2 separate regions of the Homo sapiens genome follow, and region 1 is linked to region 2. A link means that fine-mapping ties the variant in region 2 to the expression of a gene that starts in the linked region. Tissue or cell type: whole blood. Region 2 holds a variant in brackets; the other region holds the start of a gene. All regions are shown on one strand. Distances are from middle to middle.

The links. PIP is the estimated chance that this variant, and not a neighbour inherited with it, causes the effect.
Region 1: CMC2 starts here. The variant in region 2 is fine-mapped to the expression of CMC2 in whole blood (INTERVAL, PIP above 0.99).

The regions. Positions count from the first base shown.
Region 1 is chr16:81,004,773-81,010,887 of GRCh38, forward strand. CMC2 (C-X9-C motif containing 2) reads right to left here and starts at 2,113. Exons shown (of 4, transcript NM_020188.5): 1 at 1,962-2,113. It overlaps CENPN (centromere protein N), which reads left to right and starts at 2,442. Exons shown (of 11, transcript NM_001100624.3): 1 at 2,442-2,505. RefSeq lists a silencer at 1,851-2,220 and enhancers at 2,391-2,500, 2,811-2,950.
Region 2 is chr16:80,979,953-80,987,737 of GRCh38, forward strand. It overlaps CMC2 (C-X9-C motif containing 2), which reads right to left. Exons shown (of 4, transcript NM_020188.5): 3 at 1,854-1,925. Among named protein-coding and RNA genes, the nearest start is that of CMC2, 23 kb to the right of the region's middle. The variant G/A (reference allele first, on the strand shown) is at 4,721.

The DNA.
Region 1 (6,115 bases), 24 kb after region 2:
GAGGTACAATTTTCCTCAAGAGTAGTCTAAGACAGATTTCAACCACCAGGTGGCACAATTTTAGAAAATAAACCAAGAGCCAGCGCTGTATTAACTCTAGTATAAAGAAAACGGGTAAGCATTCTAATAACTCACTTCAGCAAATCTATAATCACAAGGAAGAACCCTGTATTTTAATGCCAGTTGGCTTTTCTTTAGAAAGATTTTCCTATTGTGCGGCTGCACAGGAAATTTACACTACAGTTGTAATTTCTAATGCTACTGCAAAATAAGCAAAAAACAAGGCCAGAAAAGTCTGTTGTGCAGAGTCTGAAGAAACTGTTCTCCAGAAAAAAAAACTGTAAACACTCCGCTTTCTAAAATATATCTTTTTAGGCTAGGCGCGGTGGCTCACGCCTGTAATCCCACCACTTCGGGAGGCCGAGGCAGGCAGATCACTTGAGGTCAGGACAAGCCTGGCCAACATGGTGAATCCCCGTCTCTACTAAAAATACAAAAATTAGCCAGGCGTGGCCTGTAACCCTAGCTACTCAGGAGGTTGAGGCACGAGAATCACTAGAACTCGGGAGGTGGAGGTTGCAGTGAGCCGAGATCGCGCCACTGCACTCCAGCCTGGGCGACAAAACAAGACGCCGTCTCAAAATAAAATTTAAATATATATATATATAAATAAATAACATAAAACATTTTTAAGGCCTACATTTCGGCCCTGGTATTAAAGAATTATTTTTCAACTTTTCAAGCTATGAGCCATACTGCAGCAGAGGTCGCAGACACGGTCGGGGACGGCCTCCCCTGCCCACTTCCACTTATCACAGGACCAGTTCTAAACCGATACCACTAAGAAAGCGACTGGCGCTGGCACTGTAGACCCCATGCCAGGCTGCTTCTGGGAGGGACCCGGGGGTGCTGCCTAGGGAGAAGGGCTTAACTACTCTGACTTCCACCGAAGAGTTTCTCAGAGAATGCGCCCTCGCAGCTTTCCCTGAATAAACATTACCAGGACTTACAAGGTGCCTAGCACTCTGCCAGAATCATGTGAATTTCAGAGGAAAATACTCGTTCACACATCTCAAGGAACGCACAGGCTCGTGAGGGAGCATTCTTGCCAATGCACATGGTAAATGCCCAATCGATGTTCGCGGAATGTCAGAAACTGACAACTAGTTCAGGCCTCAACGCAGTAGGAAAAGGATGAAAAAGAAACTCATTTTAAATCAACTAAACAAGTGCAAAAGCCATACATATAAAGGAGAGGAGATACGAATGGCATCACAACATAATTCCTTTGCCATCGAAAACTTCCATGCCTTTGAGGTTTTAAATGAAGACTTCCAAAACTGATTTACTTAAGACTCTACGTAAAACGCCTGATCTTTAAACGCAAGAAAAGCAAGATGAATGTATTACTTTCCTGGAAAAAAAAAGCATTAAAGGAGAAAAAAGAGTAAAGTGTACTGATGGGGCTCTTGGTGGGTTCTCACATCACAGGGCACTGCAGCTGAGACTTGCTTGAACGGCCCCCGTTTTCTACCCGCAAATTCTCAATTGCTAGATAAACAACAATAACAACACTTTATTGGGCGCTCATCGTGTCAAACCCTGTGTTGAGGGCTCCATTCCTCAAGGTCCATTTTACCGGCGAGGAAGCCCCGGCTCCGGGAGGGGAGGAGCGCGCCCAAGGTCACCAGCCAGTTGAGTGAGTGGCGGGCGGATCCCAACCCCGAGCGACGCCCACGGCCTGTCTCGGCCACCAGCGTGTTCCAGCGAGCGCCCAGCCACCTCGCTCGCAGCCTCCCCAGCGCAGCAGCCCGGCTGTGGGCCTGCGGCAGCCGGGTCTTCCTGGTCCCCACCTCCTGGGGCCGACGGGCGGCAGGAAGGGGCTCGGCGGGACGCGCCATCAGGGACCTGAGGAGGAACAACGGAACGCGTTCGGAACGGCCTGGACTCCCGAGACTCACCCGACTCGTGGCCACACCGGGAGAACTGAAGCGGCAGTAGCCGGCGGAGACGCCCGACCCGAAGGCCGGCTGCTAGGGAGCAGACAGCTGAACCGCTTGCCAGACGCCGAAACCCAGTGACGCCCTCCACCGCTCCACCGTGCTCCCGGCTCCTCGCCCCCGCCGCCCGCGGGCCCCAAGGCGCATGCGCCGCCTGTCCTGGAGGGGCCCATTTCCGTCCGTCGTGGGGGGAGGCACAGTGAGTCCACTGGGGCACGGCAGCGTCTAAGCCACAAGCCGAGCACATAAGCCAGGTCCTAACGGAGCCTATGTGTAAGTCCACTACTGGTGCAAGGTTGCACACTTCTAAGAAGAGCGGCGTGGGGGGCTCGGCGACCTTCGCTTCAGTCGCTCCCCCGTGCAGTCCCCTGTGCCCAAGACACAGCCTGATGCTTGTGCTCCGGTGGGCGGAGCTTGGAGGCGGCGGGAACTGCAATTGGTGGCTTTGAAGGCGCGGCGAGCGGGAACAGCTCTTGAGGAGTGAGACTGCAGGAGATGTGGGCCGGTAAGAGAGCCCCGGGCGGCACTGGATCGGGCCCCGGAGGGTGTGGGGCCTTGAGGAAGCCAGATCCCAGGCCTCGGGGGTGGCTTTTTCGCAATTGTCGCACGTTGTGAGGCGCAGGATTGGCGCTGGGTCTCGGGCTCGGGGCGAGGAACTACGGTTCGGGCCGAGGTGAGGGGGCGGTGGCGCTGTGCCGGCTGTGACGTCACCTCGCCCGCGGTGGGGCGGGTGGAGCCTTTCGTAGGCTCGCGACTGCGTCAGGGGAGGGCCGTGTGGTCATGTGACCAGGGGCTCCGCTCTACGATCCTGGGGTTGCTTCCTTTCCCAGAGTTGGGGTTTTGCTTTTCTGTCACCTCGGCTTCCGTCGTTTTTTGTCCCTGTACCCTCTTGCGTTGCTCCTCGCATTGCCTGTTGGAGCGCAGCAGAGGTGTGTGGCTACGGGAACGTTACTTAAAATGGATCTTTTTGATCATGCGTTCCACAGATCTTGAGCATCTACTGTATGTCAGACACTAAAACGCTAGGAAGTATAAAGAAAGTTTTAAAATGGGGCCAGGCGCGGTAGTTTACGCCTGTAATCCCAACACTTTGGGAGACCGACGTGGGCGGATCACCTTAGGTCAGGAGTTCGAGACCAGCCTGGCCAACATGGTGAAACCCCGTCTCTACTAAAAATACAAAAATTAACCGGACGTGGTATCGGGTGCCTGTAATCCCAGCTATTTGGGAGGCTGAGGCAGGAGAAGCGCATGAACCCGGGAGGCGGAGGTTGCAGTGACCCGAGATCGCGCCACTGCACTGCACCCTGGGCGACAAAGCGAGACTGTGTCTCCGAAACAACAAAAAAAGGAAAGTTTAAAAATGGTCACGGGGTAAACGTTTACTAAAGGGATTTCCGTCTTAATTGGTGAGACTGAGGGCGCTCTACCAAATTTCTTTAGACTGGCGTTCTGCAAACTTTACCCGGAATAAATCATCTGACGTACTTTTTAAAAGATGCTAAATCTCAAGCCCTCCGTGCGCCCTCCTCACAGTTTAATTTGATAGGGCCCAGGAATCTTCATTTTAACGGGTAGCCTCGTCTGTGGGTTTTTTTGTTTGTTTTTTGTTTTTTTGAGACGGAGTCTTGCTTTGTCGCCCATGTTGGAGGGCAGTGGCACGTTCTCGGCTCACTGCAACCTCCTCCTCCCGGATTCAGGCTGTTCTCTTGCCTCAGCCTCCCGAGTAGCTGGGACTAGAGGTGTGCGTCACGACACCCGGCTAATTTTTGTATTTCTAGTAGAGACGGAGTTTCACCATGTTGGCCTGGGTGGTCTTGAACGACTGACCTCAAGTGATACACCACGCCCGGCGCGCTCCCGGCCCCTCGCCCGTGTTCTTAATGGGAGAGGTGTTGATTTGATGTTTCACTGACTGTTGAACCCCAAACCACCCAGGTTGTCTCCTCAGGCATTCATTCCACAAGTATTTATCAAAGACACATTAGACTGTTCTTGGCCTGATTAGACTTACTGACTATAGTGAGGCAGTTCTGGTCTAGGAGTATAGCTGTGAATAAAAACATCGTCCTGCCCTGGAGCTCAATTTTAGAAACAAGAAAAGTTAAAAAGATAATTTCAGATAGTTCTGTAAAGACAATTAGCAGTGGATGGCCTGGTGCAGAGGCTCACGCCTGTAATCCCAGTACTTTGGGAGGCCGAGGCGGGAGGATCACTTGAGCTTGGGAGTTCAAGACCAGCCTGACCAACATGGTGAAACCCCATCTTTACTAAAAGTAGAAAAATTAGTTGGGTGTCATGGTGCACACCTGTAATCCCAGATACTCGGGAGGCTGAGGCAGGAGAATCATTTGAATCTGGGAGGCAGAGGCTGCAGGAGGCTGCAGTGAGCAGAAATCCCACTACTACACTCTAATGTGGGTGACCCAGCAAGATTCCGTCTAAAAAAAAGGAAAAAAACAATTAGCAGTGGAGAGTGGGGAAGTAACTTTTGGTTGGGTGGTCAGGATAAGTCTGAGGAGAAACCATCTAAGCTAACACCAGAATTGCAAGAAGTCACTGGAGAGAACATGTGCAGGAAGAACCTTCTAGGCAGTTGTAACTGCAGGCACAATGGTCCTTCTCTAGAGATTATTTAAGAGACTAGTGTAGTTGGAGCTCAGAAAACCAAGGAGAGGGAAGCAGGGGCCACGCAACACGGGGCCTTGTAGACCATGGTGAAGGCTTTAGATGGTCCAGTAACTACACAAAGAAACAAATCCGACTCCTGTTTCATGATCCTGATTCTGTTCCTACGACCTTAATTCAGTTATTTTTCTATTTCTAAATGACTCCTAATCCTTCCTCTTTATCTTTGTCTTACTATCATTTTCAGTATATTGTTAAAATACAGTCAACTATTTCTTTTCAGAAGTGGACAAGGATAATTTTTCAGTGTTCAACAAATAAGTCACAGCCAGGACTCTTGTAGGAAGATACTTCTTTGTCCCTGGAATTCCCACAGTTGTGAAGGAAACAGATGACTGACAGGCTTGTCTTAAACACAGATGCCAAGGTCTGTGTGTGCCTTCCTAGAAGACACACTGTTAAGGGACATTAAAGTATGCGGGTGGTACCCTGCATTGTATAAAAATCATGTTTGCAGACCACGCGCGGTGGCTCACACCTGTAATCCCAGCACTTCAGGAGGCCGAGGAGGGCAGATCACTTGAGGTCAGGAGTTCGAGACCAGCCTGGGCAACATGGTGAAACCATGTCTCTACTAAAGATACAAAAATTAGCCAGGCGTGGTGGTGCACGCCTGCAGTCCTAGCTACCTGGGAGGCTGAGGCAGGAGAATCACTTGAACCAGGCAGGGGAGGTTGCAGTGAGCCGAGGTTGCACCACTGCACTCCAGCCCGGGCGACAGAGTGAGACTCTATCTCAAATGAAAAAAATAAATAAATATCATGTTTGCTTGCTTTTTTGTTCTGTATTTGAAGAGAGAGAGAGAGATGCTCACTGGTGTCCCCAAATAAAGTAGCAGACGTGAGATCAGCTGTCACCATTGGCTCACAACTTCTGCCAAAGGAAAATGATAAAAGAGCTCAGAATCTTCCTTCCTTATTCCTGCAGCCGCTAGGTCATTCTTCTGGAGATTATATCCCTTGCCTATTGATAAGGGAGGCACACCAGATTTGGGGCTCAGGACCTTATAGACAATTAAGGAATCTCACCCTCAGGCATGGGCAGGAGAAGTGAGGGAGGAAAGAGCTCTTTGTTCACAGGCGGTGCATTAAAGGACTAAGAGACAGCAATCCACTGCACCACTAGCTCTTAGCATGTCCTGTGGAGTCACAGATCCAGCTGTTTATTCGGTATCTCCATTTGGACTCTCATCTTTATCTTAATATTAACAGATTCAGAACAGAATTACAGAATTCTTGAGCTTTCTCCTGCCTCTCTCGCAGTCTTGGCCGTCTCAGCTAATAGTAACTTTGTCTTTTAGTTCCCTGGTAAAAACCTTGGTTTCATCTTTGGTTCTTTTCTTGATCTAACACCCCACATGTAATCCATCTGGAAACCCCGTGAGTTCCCTCTTAAAAGTGTATCCAGAACCTGACCTCTTCCCCTGC
Region 2 (7,785 bases):
TGTCACCCAGACTGAAGCACTGTGGCGACCTAGATAGCTCACTGCAGCCATGAACTCCTGGGCTCAAGCGATCCTCCCGCCTCAGCCTCCCAAGTAGCTGGGACCACAGGTCTGTGCCACCACACTTGGCTAAATTTTAAGAGATTTCTTTGAGACAGGGTCTCACTATGTTGCCCAAGTTGGCCTCAAAGCTTTCACCTCAAAGGATCCTCCTGCCTCAGCCTCCCGAATAGCTGGGATTACAGATGCCAGCTCACAAGTTTACTATTAAAGAAACATCACCCTAGGTGTATTTTTCATGTAAACTGGCTTTTTCATATAAAGGACAAACATTTTTAGTAAATAATTTAAAAACACTAATAAGGCTGGGAATGGTGACTCATGTCTGTAGTCCCAGCACTTTGGGAGGCCAAGGTGGGAGGACTCACCCTAGGTGTATTTTTCATGTAAACTGGCTTTTTCATATAAAGGACAAACATTTTTAGTAAATAATTTAAAAACACTAATAAGGCTGGGAATGGTGACTCATGTCTGTAGTCCCAGCACTTTGGGAGGCCAAGGTGGGAGGACTCACCCTAGGTGTATTTTTCATGTAAACTGGCTTTTTCATATAAAGGACAAACATTTTTAGTAAATAATTTAAAAACACTAATAAGGCTGGGAATGGTGACTCATGTCTGTAGTCCCAGCACTTTGGGAGGCCAAGGTGGGAGGACTGCTTGAGGTTAGCAGTTTGAGACCAGCCTGGCCAAAACAGTGAGACTCTCATCTCTACAAAAAAATGTGTAAAACCTTAACCAGGCATGGTGGTACGCACCTGTCGTCCTAGCTACTCAGGAGGCTGAGGTGGGAGGATCACTTGAGTTTGAGGCTTCCGTGAGTTACGATCACCCTACTGCACTCCAGCTTAGGTGACAGAGCAAGAACCTGTCTCAAAAGAAAAAAGAAAAAAAGAAACAAACTATTACTCTTCACTGAGTACTCCAAAAAGTTCTTCAAACAGTAAAGGTGAATGTCACAATTTAAAGGGAATCCAGGAAGGGAAAAACAGCCTAAGCAGAAAACAAAATCAAAAGAAAGATGTTGGACAACTTCAAATATTATATTTAAATCTTTCAATATGAGGCAAAAAAAAAAAAAAGTTCAAAAATAACAAAAATGATATCTGAAAGGCAAAATTTTAGCCATCATATATTTTTAAAAGTTCTGGACACAAAAAATCTGATGTATGAAACAGAAATTGAATCAAATTTCTTTTCAAAGGTTTAAAATGCACTCTGCTTATTTGGCAGTGCCTGGAAAAAGACAATGAACTGTGTACTGTGGCTATTTGCCCAAGTCCAAGTTGTGCCCTAAAATCAAGTTCAGGAGATGACAGTGTTCCAAAACAAGTCAAATTAGATCCCTGTGGCTTACACAAACCATAACTACAAAGAAATTCAAAATGTTAAAGCTGAAAACAGCCTAATTCTAGCCTCCTCAATTTATATATAGAAATTGAGGCCCTGAGAGTTTTAGTTACCTACCAATCAGCTAATAGGTGACTGATATAAGTCTTTCTGCCGGCCAGAGATACAACTTCCTAAACCATTAAATTCATCCAGATGACCTACAGTAATCATCATAAGGAAGTTGTTTTCCTCATTTGTGTTCATGGCCAAAAAGCCATGTTCTAAAACTGTCCCCAGAAAAGCTTTCATTTCTTCCCCTAAACAGAGGAAGTTCATACATGTAAAGTCAATTTTCTGTTACACTAAAATGTGGGAAAAATTCAATAATGGCAGTAATACACAATATTCAAAAATGTTCTGTTCTATTGTTCAACCATATCCATCCTTTGACACTTTTCTTACCTCATTCTTCAGGCATTTTCTCAACTCCCGATCAACATCATTACAATAACCAAAAAATTTCAGAATGTTGTGCTAAAAGGAAGAAAAGGAGTAAAATATTTCATCCCATAATATGCCAAGGTTTGGGGCACATAAAATTTAAATACTGCCACAGACATGAGTTTACAGTGTCACTTTGTTAATAAACAAGTAATAGTTAAATCACATGTATAAAACACAGTTGGCCCTTGAACAACATGGATTTGAACTGCATGAGTCCACTTATACCTGGATTTTCTTTCAATAAATATATTGAAAACATTTTTGAACATTTGGAACAATTAAAAAAAACCTCACAGATGAACTACCATAGCCTAGAAATATCAAAAAAATTTAAGAGAAAGATACGGCATAAATGTGTAAAACATGTAAATACTGGCCGGGCACGGTAGCTCACAACTGTAAATTCCAGCACTTTGGGAGGCCAAGACGGGTGGGTGGATCACGAGGTCAGGCGTCAAGATCGGCCTGGCCAAAATGGTGAAACCTCATCTCTACTAAAAGTACACAAAAAATTAGCCAGGCGTGGTGGTGGGCGCCTGTAATCTCAGCTACTTGGGAGGCTGAGGCAGGAGAACTGCTTAAACCCAGGAGGCGGAGGATGTAGTGAGTCGAGATCGCGCCCCTGCACTACTCCAGCCTGGGCGACGGAGTGAAACTCCGTCTCAGGAAAAAAAAAAAAAAAAAAAAAAAAAGTGAATACTAGTCTATTTTGTCATTTACTACCATAAAACATATACAAATTTTAAAAAGATAAAATTTATCAAAACTAACACACACACAGAACATAAATAGCATCATTCAAATTTGAGAGAATTGTAAGCAAACATAAAGATATATCAAATCACAACTACATAAAATTAACTGCGGTATATACTGTACTGCCGTAATAATTCTGAAGTCACCTCCTATTGCTATTACACTGGGCTCAGACACTACAATTATCCACTTATAACACCCTGTGATACCAATAACATACACAGTAAGCAAGTCATGTTTACTGTAATAACCATAAAACTTGAATAACACCATGGGACCCATACGAAGTGCCACTAGTAATGCTGGAAGTGCTCCCAAGAAGCAGAGAAAAGTAATGACATTACAGGAAAAAGTTGAACTACTTGAAATGTACTGTAGATTGAGGTCTGCAGCTGTGGTTACCTACCATTTCGGACTGACATACATCATCTTGTAAACAGATGATGTAAACTTACAATATCAATAAATACAATACCATACCATAAATGTATTTTCTCTTCCTTATTTTTTCTCTAGCCTACTTTATTGCATGAATACAATATATAATACATATAACATACAAAACATGTGTTAATCACCTATTTATGCTATCAGTAAGGCTTTCAGACAACAGGAAACTCTCAGACAAGTTTTTGGGGAGTCAAAAAGTTATATGTGGACTTTCAACTGCATGGGGGTCAGTGCCCCGAACTTCCAAGCTGTTCAAGGATCAACTATACAAATGAACAAATTATCCTGGTTCTTCTTACAAAGAAGGAATAAATGTTCTGCAAGTAGAAACAAAGATTTAAAGACTTTTTCTTAATGATAGGGAAGCCTACTTACTAACTCACCAAAACCTCACAAAGACAGTATAAAAGTTTTATCATAACCTAACACCCTTTTCTTAAGGGAAATGTTAAAATCACAGCACAATCCATTCTCTATTACAGGGAGTGGTGTCAAGCTGCAGCATGGCCACACTGCCATGGGCAGAGTAACTTCACTACCAAACACTGTCCTGTAAAAGAGTTATCTAATAAATGCTTAGTGCCAGAGCCCTTTTCTCATTTGCCCCCATTCAAAATGTCACCAAAATACATCAAATAAGTAACACAGATGCGCGCAGTGGCTCACGCCTATAATCTCAGCACTTTGGGAGGCCAAGGTGGGCGGATCACCTCAGGTCAGGAGCTTGAGACCAGCCTGACCGACATGGAGAAATCCCATCTCTACTAAAAATACAAAATTAGCCAGGCATGGTGGCATATGCCTGTAATCCCAACTACTCTGGAGGCTGAGGCAGGAGAACTGCTTGAACCTGGGAGGTGGAGGTTGCGGTGAGCTGAGATCGCACCATTGCACTCCAGCCTGGGCAACAAGAGCGAAACTCCATCTCAAAAAAAAAAAGAAAAAAAAACCCACTATCATTAGATGCCCTATAAAGGTCATATAAATAAGCCACTAATTTACAATATAAGGAAATCTGCCTGAAGTTCAGTCTGATTTAAAAAATAAAATAACATCTCCTAGTTGTTTCTAGTCCTATGAGTATTATCGTGGCAAAAAGTATGCGTGCTCTAAAGCAGGTTAAGCTGAAGCCTGAAGTTAAGAACCTGAATTTCAGTAGGAACATAATTAGTGTGTTTGCACTTCACGATTTTCAAGGGTGGGTCAGACAGCATGGTGATCTGTTTTATAATGACAGGTCATAAATGCTGAACTTGGTAGTTGTAATAATAAGCACATCTTTTCCTTTTCGTTCTAATTAAGGCTTTCATGGAAACCAGACAACACATAATTAATAAGCTATGCCTCATGCTATTTCTTTTTTTCCTGCTTCACCACCATTTTAAACGTACGTTTCAATTCCACACTGAATAAGTGGTCAGTTTTTCCAGAAAGCATTTAACATAGACTAAAGTCTCCTATTTGTTACCTAATGACCTTTCCAGAATAAATTTTTTAATTAAAAAAACTTTTTGTACTTAATTTTTATTTTACTTTTTTCTTTCCTCTATCATTCCCAAAGAATAAATATTTCCTGTGTATTTTACTATACTACTACTTCCTTGACAACAAATAAACAT[G/A]ACAATGCATTTTCATGCCTTCAAGTCAAGTAGACTTTTCAAATGTGAGGCAATATTACATAGTTGACATTTATTCATATCATTCCACATATGTACATCTTAATTCAAAAATCCATGACAAAAACTAATTTATATGCTTCCTTTTACCTCAATATTAACTAAGGTAAAATGAGAATTATACTCTTGTGATGTTACATGAAAAATATTAGACCCAAGTGCCCCAGAGAAATTGGTAGAAGAAATGCCCACAGGCTACAATTTTCTTATACTTACATGGACTGAGTCTCTAGTGCCTGGTGTCAATTTCTTGAGAACCAAACCAACCGAGTAACTGATTGAATAAGTGAATCAACAGATATCTGCGAACCTTTTACATAAAGAACAATGTCCCAGGTACCAGGGACACAGAAGTGAGCAAGGTGGATCTGGGTCCTACTCTCACAGTACATAGTCAGAGGGAAAGAGGCAAATAAGAAGTCACTGCCATAAAGCAGTGGTTCTCAAAGTGCAGTCCAGAGACACCGAGGGGTTCCTGAGACCTTTTCAGGGAAGGTACAAGGTCAAAACTATCTTCTCAATAATACAAAAACATTTGTTTTGTTCATTTTCATCCTCCCACAAGGGTATAGCGGAGTTTTCCCGGGGCTACATGAAGTCTAACATCACAACAGATTGAATGTAGAGGCAGACATGAGAATTCAGGTATATTTTATTAATTCAGACATTTAAAAAATGAAAAGCAATGCAATTCTTTTCGCTTTTTTCTGGTTTGAAAAATAAGATTTTCGTGAAAAATAACTATGCTAACATGTCATCTTAACATGTAAAATTATAATTTATCATTGTAATTTTAAAATAATTTTTTCTTCATTTCTCAGCCTTCATTTCTAATCCAATAAATATTGTAGATATCACCCACATAAACAATAGCTCCCTAGAATCCTAAATAATGTTAAAAGAGTGCAAAAGAGTCCTGAGACCAAAAAGTGTGAGAACTGCCACGAAGGAGAAAAGCTGTTATGTATGATGCTACTCAAACAGAGTGACTGCACCAGGAGAATCTAGGCCAGGAAAGGGAAAAGGAAACGACCAACTAAGCTGAAGAAAACCTGAAGGATGATAAGACCTGGTTTAGCAAACAGTAAGTGGAGCCAGGAGGAATGCACTAAGCTCAGCAAAGGAAAAATCAAGGCTTGGAAGACAGAAATATCATTCTCCCATATACCTGCAAAAAAAAAAAAAAAAACCACAGGAATGAAGGGGAAGGAGCTGTGGGAGAGTGGTGAAGACTAACAGCTACTCAAGGATGAGTTTCATTAAGGACTTGAAACACAAGGCAAGACATTTATAACGCATTGTATAGGCAAAAGGATCTATTAAAAAGGTGACAATGAGCCAGGTGCGGTGGCTCATGCCTGTAATTCCAGCACTTTGGGAGGCCCAGGCGGGCGGATCACCTGAGGTCAGGAGTTTGAGGCCAGCCTGGGCTAACATGGTGAAACCCCATCTCTACTAAAAATACAAAAATTAGCCAGGCATAATGGCCTGGTACCTGTAATCCCAGCTACTCGTGAGGCTGAGGCAGGAGAATCGCTTGAACCGGAGAGACGGAAGTTGTAGTGAGCCAAGATCATGCCACTACACTCCAGCCTGGGCGACAGAGAGAAACTCTGCCTCAAAACTAACTAAATAAATAAATAAAATGCAGATTCCTAACAGCTACAGTGAGCTGAGATTGTACCACTGCACTCCAGCCTGGGCGACAGAGTGAAACTCCGTCTCAAAAGAAAAAAAAAAAGGTAACAATGATTAAACTTATTTTTGAAAGATCACTCTAAATCCAGGGTGGAAAATTGATTTAAACAAAAAAGAAAACAAAACCGCCAGGAGACCAGATAGAAGTCCTTTACAGGTGGCCCCAATAAAAGTGTTGCCATGGACTATGGCAGTGGCACTGGCAAAGGAGAACAATGGTTCAAGAGAGATTCGGCAGAGAACACACAGCCCTGGTAAGGACTCACAGGAAGAGGTGAGGCAGATGGAGGAATTAAAGATGACACTGGCTTTCAGCCAAGAATGACAGTGGAAGTTTTAAAAAGAGATAAGATAAATTTGTATCTGGACATGTTGAGTTTATTGGTGGAACAGTTAAGTCCACTATCTAGCTGAGATAAACCTGGAACTCAGAGAAAATCTGAGCCAGAGATACAGATTTGGGAGTTACTGAAACCAGGAAAGCGAATGATTTTTTGCAGGAAGGTGTAGCCTAGGGTATCCTGAAGAGTGGCCAAAAAAACTTAAGGAAAACCAGGGAAGAGAAAGTTATGGTAGAAGCCTGTGGAAGAGTGTTTTGAGAGGGAATCAATTGCTGCTGGGAGAAAAGTGAGGTAACTACTGAAAACATCCACCAAATTTGCCAGTAGTGCAGTCATTAGTGATCTTGAAAGTTTTGGGACCCTAGTGAGGGTAGAAGCCAACCTGAAAGAAGAAAGCAGTATTCTTTCAATAGCTCTGAAAGGGACGCTAACACAAGATACCAGAAGGCTGGGATTATGGGAAGGAATCTTATGTATTTATTTTCTCACGATGGAAAAAAAGTGGGCATTTCAAAATGCTAATAAGAAGAAGAGAAAAAGGGAAAATACAAAAATTTTTAAATGGTGGAAAAACCCAGTACTTAGTGAGTTTATCTCTGGATGGTTGAACAAAAGGTAATTTTTGTTTGCTTTATACTTTCCTACTTTTTTAACACTATCTAAAATGATATGTATTATTTACATATTACTTTTATAAATCAGAAAAAATACACAAGGATTTCCAAGTAGCTTTGACGAAATAAGCTGTTCTAAATTCTGTATTTTACCTTCAGATGCAAAGAATATCTAAGTCTTGCTGACAAATTTAGGCAAAATAGGCCAGTAGATCAGAAGCCACCCACAGACACCTGAAAGCTGTGGAAATAACACTTGCCTGCAAAGATCACAGCAGAACTATAAAAGCACGGAAAGAATGATAAAAGCACAGCAAGGTAGGCTATTTGGAGATAAAACACTCATGCACTTCAA